Homo sapiens: one gene and its partner. The protein of the gene in region 1 interacts with the protein of each later gene in a biochemical or structural test. Each region holds a gene or a part of one and is shown in the gene's direction. Other genes may lie near its edges.

What was found. Proteins that work in one complex are often made in the same cells at the same time.
Region 2: the proteins of HOMER1 (region 1) and DBNL form a complex in vitro, tested with the Homo sapiens proteins (one study listed by BioGRID).

What each region holds. Positions count from the first base shown.
Region 1 is NC_000005.10:79,372,113-79,378,149, reverse strand, and holds the end of HOMER1 (homer protein homolog 1), read left to right. Parts: intron 1-1,952; coding exon 1,953-2,141; 3' UTR 2,142-5,514; downstream 5,515-6,037. UniProt on the Homo sapiens protein: Postsynaptic density scaffolding protein. Binds and cross-links cytoplasmic regions of GRM1, GRM5, ITPR1, DNM3, RYR1, RYR2, SHANK1 and SHANK3.
Region 2 is NC_000007.14:44,047,686-44,054,723, forward strand, and holds part of DBNL (drebrin-like protein), read left to right. Parts: intron 1-2,539; coding exon 2,540-2,595; intron 2,596-4,080; exon of another isoform or gene 4,081-4,144; coding exon 4,145-4,257; intron 4,258-5,181; coding exon 5,182-5,256; intron 5,257-7,038. UniProt on the Homo sapiens protein: Adapter protein that binds F-actin and DNM1, and thereby plays a role in receptor-mediated endocytosis.

The sequences.
Region 1 (6,037 bases):
CCTCCCGGTTCAAGTCATTCTCCTGCCTCAGTCTCCCGAGTAGCTGAGATTACAGGTGCCTGCCACCACGCCTGGCTAATTTTTATATTTTTAGTAGAGACGAAGGGATTCGCCATGTTGGCCAGGCTGGTCTCGACCTCCTGACCTCAGGTGATTCAGCCTCCCAGAGTTCTGGGATTAAAGGCGTGAGCCTTGCCCTAATTATTTTTCTTGAAAGTTTAATTTTTACATTGTGAAAAAAATTTAGTTCTTAATTTTTTTTTCATTCTTTATCCAACTTGAGAGAAGAATAAATTTTTGGAAAAAAGTGTCTGTAATTTCAACACCAGAACTATTTTTTATTTCCTATTTCTACATTAATTCCTAGTGTTTGTCCTCATGCATACGAATTTTTGCCAGTTTCAGTGAGCTACTTTATATTCTGTTCTTTTCATTTAACATTTACCAGATTGTCTTTCAGTGATCTAATTTTTTTAAAATTTCCACTGTCCTTTAGACTTGATAGAATTCCTTTAGAGATTAACATTTAAAGGATGTATTAACATTTTGAAACATCTCATTTTCTGAGGCTATCATGTTGTGTAACTAACATCAAGATATTTTCGTTGTCCCATATAGTTTATATATCTTAATGTAAATTGTGTCAGTCACTTAGTTTCTCTCAAATGTAAAAGTGAGCTTTCCAGAACGGATATATAACAACTTTCAATTCATTGCTTATCTGAATTGCTTATTTAAAGTGTAATAGTTGGCTTTCTCCCATTTTTCTCAATCTGATTTTTTTAACCAAAATGAAATCATTAGCTTGATTTATGTCATTTTATTTTTTTAGACTCACTTTATTATATTTGTCACATTTAGAGACAATTTTAAAAGCAGTAATAGGCCAGGCGGGGTGGCTCACGCCTGTAATCCTAGCACATTTGGAGGCCGAGGCGGGTGGATCACTGGAGGTCAAGAGTTCAAGACTGGCCTGGCCAACATGGTGAAACCCCGTCTCTACTAAAAATATAAAAATTAGCCAGGTGTGGTGGCGTGTGCCTGTAATCCCAGCTACTTGGGAGGCTGAGGCAGGAGAATGGCTTGAACCTGGGAGGCGGAGGTTGCAGTGAGCCAAGATTGCACCATTGCACTCCATCCTGGGGGACAGAGTGAGACTGTGTCTCAAAGAAAAGAAACAACAACAAAAAAACAAAAGCAGTAATAACTGCTAAATAATTTTTAAGTGTGCCAGAGTTTATTCTGTCAAAAACAAATCATTTAGTGTTTTTTTTGTTGTCATGAACATTTGATTTCCTTTTGTCATTTTTTTCCCTTGGTTTGCAATGTATTGGAACTGTTAACTTATAATTCTCTAATATGTACAGTTATTATGTATCTTCACTACAGTTTCTAGCAATTGAGTGATACTCTCTACATATACATTTATTTGATATTGAGGCAAAGCAAAGAATAACATATTCAGAGGATCCTAAAATCACATTTTAGAGAGTTACTTTCTTGTCTAAATCTTTCTCTAGAGTTGCCAGTAAACAGAAAAAGTTAATTTCTTTTTCTTTCTCTGCCTGCTTTCACCTGTGATTGCTAATAATTATGCATTAGGAGAAATAGGTGGACAGCAATAAAAATGAGATCTAAGTGATCCATAAATAGGTCTTCAAGCCTGTCTTGGTATTTGAAGTACCTAGAGTGTTGCCTGGCACAAAGTAATGAGTCAGTAGATTTTCGTTGAGTGGTTAGATAGATTGATAACCAAGCCAGTCATTAAAATCGTATTGCTCTCTGGGATGGCCAAGTCTAAAATCTCCTTAAATTGTGCTAAATTAAGATTCTGCAGCTCATCCTGACAGTCAAACTGCATTGATTACCGCAATATTGGTAATAACAGAGAGTTGTATTGTTTTCTAAGTGATGAATTGACATATATACATGTTACACTTTTGTTTCTGAAGGAAGTAGAAATTCGGAACAAAGACCTGGAGGGACAACTGTCTGACTTAGAGCAACGTCTGGAGAAAAGTCAGAATGAACAAGAAGCTTTTCGCAATAACCTGAAGACACTCTTAGAAATTCTGGATGGAAAGATATTTGAACTAACAGAATTACGAGATAACTTGGCCAAGCTACTAGAATGCAGCTAAGGAAAGTGAAATTTCAGTGCCAATTAATTAAAAGATACACTGTCTCTCTTCATAGGACTGTTTAGGCTCTGCATCAAGATTGCACAAAAAAAAAAAAAAAAAAATTGAATATCACTCCTCCAGGAGGAGGATCTTTTGAAATTGGAATTGTATATTTCACTGTAAATTTTAGAATCCAGCTTGTAGCTAGTTGGGGAAAAAAGATGAAAAACTTGAACTACAAATTACCTCCATGTATATTATTGGCCATAGTTAACTAGAAAGTTATAAATAGACACTTAATGCAATCTTTTTTCCTGATATTAGCCAATGGGAGAATTAACAATGTCTAGGTCACATCCCCTTTTTGTGTTCAACACAGTGAAGATTATCTGCTTTTTAAATTAATTTATTTACGATATCTAGAGCTGTGTTTTGTGCAAAAACTTAGTGATGAAAGCCTGTCTTTTGTTGTAATCTGAATAATTTCTCAGGATATTTTTGCACTGCTGAGAAGCAGTGCCATTACCAATTAATTCTTGCCAGGAGTGAGAGAGAGCTGTATCTTTAATTGAAATATACTATAACTGGGTGTATAGAGTTCTTCCCTTTTTTGTGCTGGAAGATATTTCACTCTGGTGACTACTCTGGTACACTCTGGTGTTCTCTAATCTTGTCTGTTGTATAGTTTACTTTTCCATATTGATTCCATGTATTTATGAGAAGATATTGTCTCCCATTTTATTACACATTTTAAAGCCAACTAACGAAGGCAGCTGAGTCCCTCAGAAATTTTTCTTTTTAAGTTTCTAATAAATTTGACACACAGTACTGAAATACAGCAGCCCGTCATTGACAGGCTGGTCTAGCAATGTTAAGTATATTTACAGAATATGCAGTTACATTTATTTATATATTTTGCAAGAAATCTTTTCTGAATGATCAATGCATTTCAATTTACGAATAATAATGGTTATTGGGGAACTGTTTATTATAGATAATTTTAAGGTGTATAGCTATTTTAAAGGGGGTCCATTTACATCAAACAGCTGATCAGAGGACTCTATCTAAATTGTGATCGTGGCAGATAGAGATGGAGTCATGTACTCTATCTGGCTCTACACATCAATCACATCTTGATTCAAACCTCACAAGGCAATATTCTGAATTGTTAACTAGGTATTTCAAAACAGGAATTAAATTCAATAGGCTCTTCTCAGTGAACAGGTTTTAATGTTGTTTTGATGTAATTTTAAAAGACTTTTAGCAAACATGCATTTCTTTATATGATATATTTCTTTTACGAAGCTATTTTAAAAGTAAGCCAAGTGCTGTCTAGTCTGCTTATAAAGTAGGAATTGCATCAGAGTACATATATTCTTGCTGTACAATGCCTGTGATGTTGAGGAGGGTTCTTTTTTAAAGTGTATGCTTGAGTAACTGACTCTATGGAGTCTATAAATGCACTGACTTCTTGTTTGTACCCCAAAATGATCGAATTGTTAAGTACAAAATTAAGCTAATTAACCAATTTGTAACCATTTTTTCACTCATAAACAGCTACTCAATACTAGACAATTTTGTTTTTTATGTATGTGTATGTACGTAAATACATACATATTAATTTACATTAGAGTGAAAAATAAATGGTTTGTTTCTGAAGTTAGTTTCTTAAGTGAGTTTTCAGGTGTCTCTGAAAAATTTATAACAATCATGTATTATATGTGCTGTAACATCATGTACGTTACCTCCATCTATTTTAGGATATTTTCCTCACCTATATATTATAGGGAGAATAATTTAGATACACATGCTCAGAGCTGAGATATTTCTCTGATAAATCAGGTAACAAAATGTATTTGATTGATGGAATTTTGAAGTAAATGTGTTTTTATCCATCAGTTTCTGAGTAACAAAGAGCACCAAGTTTTAATTTAAATAGGAGATTTAACACTAGGGATCAGGGAGTTTAGTATGAAGAGTTAAAAAAATTTAAAAAACAGTGTAAGCTGTTGAAATGGCAAGTGAATTATTTTAATGATGTAATAAAATATTTTTAAATTTTGACATAGTGATCATTTAATGAAAAAACTCACCAAAATGTCTCCATTTGAATTGTATTGATAATGTGGGACATATGTGTGATTCAATATATACATATACCCATATGTATATACAGAAAATTATTTTTAATACTTTCCTACTGATAATGAAATTTAAAATTGGAAATTTTGTGAGTGTTTTTCTTGTCCAATAGAGCCTAATTGTTTCCTTTTTTAGTGATTTAACAATCTCTTGAGGGCTGCACCTTTAAATTCCCAGATTGTCAATAGACATGTACAGTATATGGGATAAGGTGGACACAAGTGCACATATAAATAAAATCTTCTTAAGACTTTTAACTATTCATTTACAGTAGGAGAGTATGTAGAAATCATCATCCACAAGTCATAATTAGGTTGTGTGCCTACTGTAGTTTTTTCCATTTCTGTATTATATAAACATTTGCATATTAAAATTTGATTTTTCCCAGAGACAAGTATTATATACTGTATCTATATTTAAATCAAACTGTGGTAATATATTTCTCAGAAAATAATGTTGGGGACTATAGCCTGAACATGTGGACTTGAAGCGACATGGAGGAGGAGGTTGATCCCATTGTGTATAAGTTAATATGTGATAACTATTGAATCTTGTACAAAAACAAAAATTGAAAAAAAAAAAGAAAAGCAAAAATACAGTTTTTATTTTGAAATACATTTGTTCTCTGGAGAATGTACTTTATCTTTTTTTCCTCCAGTCTTTTACAGATATTTAAAAGCATTTAAATGATGACAGCATTTACTTAAATCTTTCAGGTGCTACTGGATTTTGCATTAGTGTGTTATGTTGTGAAATCCTAACTTTGACATAAAAGGTTTTATAAGTATTCCCCTGCCTGGAAAATTAGTTTTTGTTCTCCTCTCTCTCTCTTTCTCTTTTCCACTTTCTTTCTGCAGACTAAAACATGCTCACGAAGTTGCATCTCTCCTTGTCTCTATAGAAGATCTCCAGCACCATCATAGATTTGATGTTCTGCTGTCATTGAACTGTTGGGAAGCAGTTAGAGGAAAAGCTCACTTTTTTTTTCAGGTGGAAATAAAAGGAACACTCAAAATTAAGCCAACACCACCACTACCTTTAAAAACTAGTTTATTTGCCCTGTTAAAATTAAATGTATTCTTTAACATGTGGGCTACAGTCTCCCATGTTTTTATTTAACTGAAGCATATACACTTCGGTCATTTATCTCCTTGTGGTCCTGATTTTGTCAGTACTGGAATGGGAGGCAGGTCGGGGAAAGTTTGTTTGATGGCAGTGGATTCTTATTGTTGTTTTAACCATTGCATTTATTTGATATCAAATGATTTTGACATCCTGAAATTCTGTGCTTGAAGTCATGAAATGATTTTCATTGAATTTTTGCCTCCTAAATGTATAGCATGAAGTAAATTAATTTATACAAAATCTTAAGAAACCTTTCAGGTAAGAAGTAGTTGAGATTGACACTGTTAGAAAATTTCTCAATTTCTAAATTTAGAAATTACTAGAAAAGGAAAGGATGTGTCATTCACCTTACTCCAAATTGCGAAAGTGTGTTTTTTCCTAATATTCGTGTTAAATTTTACCTTAAAATTTTTATGATAGTTTTTCTTCATGAGAAACTGATATATAGATGTCACGCAAATACAAGCAAAGTTACTGAATTAAAGTAGTGGGTACTTAGCATTTTTTGTTTATATATTACATAGTAAAATAGCTAAAAATCATATCCCAGAAAACTCAAAAACTCAGTCAGCACTACACTGCCTGGTGGTTTCTGCTTAGTACACTAAATAGAAAAAAAAAAAAATTTTAAGTGATTTTTACCAAAA
Region 2 (7,038 bases), on another chromosome or scaffold:
GATGCTTGACACTCCATATGCCTTGCTGTTCAGAGGCCAGTGCACCATGTTTTTTCATGTTGATTTGAAACTTCCTTCGCCCTTCTTTCAAAAGGCCTCTGAACTGGGAATGAGCCTCTGCGCTGGGAACATTCTTAAAGGTGGCCTGGGGTAGAGAGGGATCAAGTCAGAGGGATAGGTGGCAGGCATTGAGCTTGGCTCTTATTATATTAGCTGCTGAGTCCCTTTTTTTTTTTTTTTTTTTTTTTGAGACAAGAGTCTTGCTCTGTCGCCCAGGCTGGAGTGAAGTGGCACGATCTTGGCTCACTGCAACCTCTGCCTCCCAGGTTCAAGTGATTTTCCTGCCTCAGCGTCCCAAGTAGCTGGGATTACAGGCACCCACCACCACACCCAGCTAATTTTGTATTTTTAGTAGAGACGGGGTTTCCCATGTTGGCCAGGCTGGTCTCAAACTCCTAACCTCAGGTGATCCACCCGCCTTGGCCTCCCAAAGTGCTGGGATTACCGGCATGAGCCATCGCAGCTGGTTGAGTCCCTTCTTGCAAGAGCTGGGTTGAGCTGCCATCTTCTGTTACCTGCTGCTTGTGCCAGCTTGCTATCTTCTGGGAGCCAGGGCTTTGTGGCCATCAAGAGGAATGGGCTTCTTTCCTCCAGGGAGTTCCCCCCAGCTCATGCTGGCAGTGTGCCACCTCCCAAATCTTTCTCTTGTTTTTCTGTGTTCTTTTCTCTAGTTCCTTTTCTCTGAGTGTTTCTCATTCAGTGTTTCTCTCCTGTATTCTGTCTCCCCTCCTGGTAAGGAGTGCCTTTTCCCGGAGGCCTGTCTCCTCCCTACCAACCAGATCCACTGGGCCTGGGTCTAATTTCTTCCATTTTTCTGAGGCATAAGTATCTCTGCCCAGTGGCACTGGCAAAGCCCTGGGGAAGCCAAGTTGAAGCTGATTTGGTTCCTGTCCGACTGTTTATCCCTGGAGCTTCTGTCTGGCCTGCCTCAGCAGGCCTGTGCTTTAGAGCCTGGGGAGATGACACACACTGGACTGGGTTTTGCCTTTGACTTATAGTCCAGTGGGTCAGTGCCTCCAGCCCATGTCCAGCAGCCCTGCTGGGGATGTTCAGTTGCTGCAAGGTTCATGCTATTAGCAAGCCAGAATGAATCTTTACCAGAGTTTTGTTTTTGTTTTTGTTTTTAAGAGTTGGGGTTTCACTCTGTTGTTTGGGCTGGAGTACAATGGCATCATCATGGCTCACTGTAGCCTCGACCTCCCAGGCTTAAGCAATCCTCCCACCTCAGCCTCCCGAGTAGTTGGGACTACGGGCATATGCCACCACGCCTGGCTGATTTTTGTATTTTTGGTAGAGACAGGGTCCCACCATGTTGCCCAGGCTGGTCTCAAACTCCTGGGCTCAAGCGACCCTCCTGCCTCAGCCTCCCAAAGTCCTGGGATTACAGACACGAGCCACCCACCTGGCCCAGAGTTCTGTTCTTTTTTTTGAGATGGAGTCTCACTCTGTTGCCCAGGCTGGAGTGCAGTGGCGCGATCTTGGCTCACTGCAAGCCCCGCCTCCCGGGTTCATGCCATTCTCCTGCCTCAACCTCCTGAGTAGCTGGGACTACAGGTGCCTGCTGCCACGCCCAGCTGATTTTTTGTATTTTTAGTAGAGATGGGATTTCACCGTGTTAGCCAGAATGGTCTCGATCTCCTGACCTCGTGATCCACATCTGCCCGCCTCGGCCTCCCAGAGTGCTGGGATTACAGGCGTGAGCCACTGCGCCCAGCCCAAAGTTCTTATGAATAATTAATCTTTCAGGAAAAGAAAGCCATGGCCCCATGTCACCCATGGAGAGATAAGGCTCTGCTAGATAGAAAACTTGCTCATGGGTACCTGTCCGTGAGGGGCTTGGCAGGTTCATGGCTTTAACTGTGTGATTTCATGTCGTGTCATTCCTTTGTGGTTTCTGATAAACACAACCTGTGGTAGTCTGTGTTTACCAAAGAGTCTCAAGCCTGGAAGGACCTGCTGCCCTACCCACCAGGCTTCACTGGAGCCAGGGCAGACGTGCACAGGAGTGGTGGGCAGCCTTCCAAGGGGCCCAGTGTGTGTATTTCTCCGACTTGCTTCTCCTTTTGGGTGCTCTGGGTTCAGGAATATGTAGATATGTTTTGTCTCTTCAAATCCATATACCTAGTGGCCAGGTGAGTATTTGACACATGAATGTATAGCAGTCATTGGGAAACTCCACAGCTCATGTTTTCCTCATAGTAGATGTGTGCTCCCATCTCCATGGCTTTGTCCCTCACAACCCCCACCCCATGGTAAGTCAGGCCAGTGTCCTCCCAGCTGCAGAGCTGAGAAGGCTGCACAGTTGCCTACTGAGAACCTGCCTAGTGGGTCAGAGCAAAGTGAGAACGGGCCTGTGCCCACCCACAGTGTTACTGTCAGCCCAAGCTCTTTGGGATGTAGTGGAAAGTCATGGTGGATACGGTGAGGAGAGATGGAACCCAAGGTGCTGGCTACAGAGCTCACTTGTGTTTCGTTTCAGGGCTCTCTTTACCTATGAAGGCAACAGCAATGACATCCGCGTGGCTGGCACAGGGGGTGAGTATGACTCCAAATGGACTCAGGGACACCAGGAGGTAGGAGGGTGACGACGAGGGGTCAGCGCACTCAGCTGTCTTGGTCCACTGAGCCACATGGGGCTTCCAGTGCTCACTGGCCACTTCTGGCAGGCCTTAGGTTTCAGATATGTGTAAGTGAAAACATTCCTCCTTGGTTCTCCTTCCCTCTGGGTGCAGGGGAGTGCTTTCTCTTTGTCTACTTGGGGAGAGCTGAGAGGGAAACAGGCCTCTCCAGCTTGTGGGCAGCCTGCGTTGGGAGCTGCGGTGGGAAGCTCACCAGTCCCAGAACTGGTGCTGGTGGAAAGAAAGTCCACAGACATATCTTCTTCTCCCTTTGTCCTGCCCTGGTCTTGTGCCGAGTGCTTGCAGGGGCCCCATCCTCACTGGGAGAGGCAGTATCACTGCAGATAGTCACGGGGGAGGCTCTGGAGGTCTCTACAGGAAGGACAGGCTCTTGGCCAGCACAGAGCAGAGGTTGTCAGGGTAGGCTTCGTCAGAGTGTGACCTGTGGGCCCCTCAGCTGACACCCGTGACTGCTCCTCCTCCAGAAGTTGCCTGACCCCTCCCTCTGTCCTGAGCTGGACATGGCTTCATTGTTCAATGAACACTCGGAGTGGTTCTCCACGGTTTGATGTCTGTTGTTGGTAGAAAGCCCCTTCCTTTCACAATCTTTCTGGGAGGTGTCCCCTTTCTAGAAGGATTGCCATTGAACAGTAGACATGTGGTGTGGCAGGTGACTGGGAGTTGCAGAGATCAACAACTTGAGAGTTTCCTGTCATCCCCAGTGGCACAGGACAGGGCTCTGCCACAAATGCAACAATTTGCTGTCCCCAGAGTGGGGCTCATGACTGCCTCCACTCATACGGAGCCCTGTAGATGAAATACCTGATCAGCTCTTCCTCCTTATAACCTGGAAAAGTTTGTGAGGGCTAAGCCTCAGTGTCAGGGAGAATTGTTTAGAGCTGCCCACTCCTGTGCTCCCCCTGTCCCCATCACCCTCTCTTCTGGAGTCTGAGGACTGAGCCAGTTACGCCACTGCAGGATGTTCAATCTGGTCTGGCCGTCTGGGTGGCCCTGGAACTTGAGCAGACACAGGTGCAGGCAGTGGTGACTCTACAGGCCCTGCTATTCCGGGCCCTTTTGCAACGTTGTGGCAACAATAAAATTTTGACGTAGCCATCCTCCATTTGGAAGTCTGGTGGCTGGTTTGCCGTGGAAATGACCCTGTTTTTATTTCCAGAATTACCTCTGGGTTTAGAGAAGTGGTTTTTAAACGAGTGTGGGTAAAAAAAATTACCTGAGGTACTTGTCAGAATCGCAGACTTCTAGGTCCCACCCAGCTCTCATCAATCAGTTTAGTGAGGGTGGTGCCCAGGACTCTGATTTTAAACATACCCCTAGAAAGATTCTGATACAGGTAGAGGTGAGAAGCCCTGGTTTAGAAGCAGCTCGGCCTCCCTTCATGGTGGGACCAGGGCCAGCAGGGAATGTCAGGGCCACCCCTGACCTTCACTGTGACTCTGCTGCAGAGGGTGGCCTGGAGGAGATGGTGGAGGAGCTCAACAGCGGGAAGGTGATGTACGCCTTCTGCAGAGTGAAGGACCCCAACTCTGGACTGCCCAAATTTGTCCTCATCAACTGGGTATGTGGAGCCTGTTTCATCTAGGTGTGACCCAGGAAACCCCATTGTCTTCTTTCCTGTTTTGACTTGACTTCAGGAACAAAGTGTTTTACTGGCATGACTTAGTAGATCAATAGAACAGCTCTGAGCTGGTGAATGAGCAGAATAGTTGACAGATTCATTGTGGCCCAAAGAATAACTGTGGCTTTGCTATGCAGAATTCACCTTCCAAGCCTAGAGTTCTTCCTGCAAAATGGATTAAAAGCAGTCACAGGGAGTCCTTGCTCCGTGCTCTTGAGGGTGGTTGTTCTGATGGAGTAGAGAGCCTGAGGGAGTGTTTAGGAGCCTGGGAGTACAGGGACAGGGCCTCCTTGATCCCTTGGTGGGGATCAAGAAAACTCTTGAAGGCTGGGTGGGGTGGCTCACACCTGTCATCCTAGAACTTTGGGAGGCCGAGGTGGGTGGACTGCCTGAGCTCAGGAGTTTGAGACCAGCCTGGGCAACATGGTGAAACCCCATCTCTACTAAAATACAAAAAATTAGCTGGGCATGGCAGCGTGCACCTGTAGTCCCAGCTACTCAGGAGGCTGAGGCAAGAGAATTGCTTGAACCCAGGAGGCAGAAGTTGCAGTGAGCCAAGATTGCGCCACTGTACTCCAGCCTGGGCCACAGAGCAAGACTCCATCTCCAAAAAAAAAAAAAAAAAGAAAATTCATGAAATGCCCCCACAGCGAAAGCCGGTAGCCATCCTGCCCAGGGAGAATCCATGAGCCCCTTGGAGGCATGGGAACTTACCTCACCCATGTGATGCAGTCAGAAGAATAGGTTCTGCTTTGGGGGTTGCAGTTTTCTCTTTTCTGGGACACAGGGTAGATGTTGGGTCCCCAGGGAAGGGAAGTGGCTTTGGGGGAGGCCTGGGTCAACCTGGGCATCCTTGTGTTGCAGACAGGCGAGGGCGTGAACGATGTGCGGAAGGGAGCCTGTGCCAGCCACGTCAGCACCATGGCCAGCTTCCTGAAGGTAAGGCCAGGTGAGGCCCGCTTCACTGGGAACAGGCCTCACAGGCTTGAGGTCTCGCAGGTTCCTGGGTGCGAGCAAGTGGGAATCAGAACTGGAGTTGGGAGTGTGCTCATAGCTAATGCTCTCTGCCTGCCTTTGAGGGCATGACCAGAGGCTGCTTCACTCTCGGTCAGTGAGTGCATGGGAGGTCAGGATGTTGCCAGGGCCACCTACAGGCCTGCCTCAGTGGGGCAGGATAAAGGACTATGCTGGAGCTGGTGCCGTGAGAAGGGTGGGCCCTGGTTCTGTTTTGTTTTATGATCCCTCTAAACAGTTTAGTAATACCGTCAGGATTTGGAGGAAGGGGAGAGTGCCCACCATCTTAGCACGCATGTGCCCTTTTGATGCATTCCTTTCCAGCCCCCTCTACATGGAGTTATGTCAGTCCTATAATAGAACCTTTTTAAATTTTAAAAACTATTTGTAACAAAAGCATTTGTTGGTCACTTGTCAGGTAACTTTTTGCATTTCTCTGGCAAAGGAGACTCAGAATTTTGATTTCTCGTTCTGCCAACATTTCTTCAGCTATACCTCAGTTTCCATCTAGGAGCTGATAAGAGAATTCCCAGCTTATCGATATACAGGTTTGAGTATCCTTTATCTGAAATGCTTAGGACCAGAAATGTTTTGGATTTTTTCAGATTTGGGAATGTTTTCAGTTCAGCATCCAAAATCCGAAATTCTCCAGAATCTGAATTTTTTTTTTTTTTTTTTGAGACTGAGTCTCGCTCCGTTGCCCAGGCTGGAGTGCAGTGGCGTGATCTTGGCTCACTGCAAGCTCCGCCTCCCGGGTTCACACCATTCTTCTGCCTCAGCCTCCCGATTAGCTGGGACTGCAGGCACCCGCCACCACGCCCAGCTAATTTTTTGTATTTTTAGTAGAGACGGGGTTTCACTGTGTTAGCCAGGATGGTCTCGATCTCCTGACCTCGTGATTTGCCCGCCTTGGCCTCCCAAAGTGCTAGGATTACAGGCGTGAACCACCACGCCCAGCCCAGAATCTGAGATTTTTTGAGTGCTGACATAATGCTTAAAGGAAATGTTCATTGGAGCAGTTCAGATTTTGGAATTTTAGGTAAGGGATGCTCAACCTGTATAGCAACAGTGAATGACGTCATGGGTCTGGCTTCTTATGAAGAAATCATTGGCTTACTTTTTGTAGAAAACATGCATGGCATTCTTTTATCAGAGTTTTTTTTAATTGTTTTGTTTTTTGTTTGTTTGTTTGTTTTGAGACAGTCTCACTCTGTCACCCAGGCTGGAACGCAGTGGCACGATCTCGGCTCACTGCAACCTCTGCCTCCCAGGTTCAAGTGATTTTCCTGCCTCAGCCTCCTGAGTAGTTGGGATTACAGGTGCCTGCCACCATGCCCGGCTAAGTTTTCTATTTTTAGTAGAGATGGTGTTTCCCTGTGTTGGCCAGGCTGGTCTGGAATCCCTGAGCTCAAGTGATCTGCCCTCTTCAGCTTCCCAAAGTGCTGGGATTACAGGCGAGAGCCACCGCACCTGGCCCAGAGTTTTTATAAATTGATATATAATAGTTGTACATATTTTTTGCATACATGTCATATTTTGATACCTGTATACAATGTATACGATGAATCAGGGTAATTAGCATGTTCATCACCTCAAACATTTATCTTTTCTTTGTGTTGGGAACATTACAATTTTTCTCTTCTAGCTAATTTGAAATACACAAAATTATTGTTAACTATAATTTCCCTTCTGTACTATTGAATACTA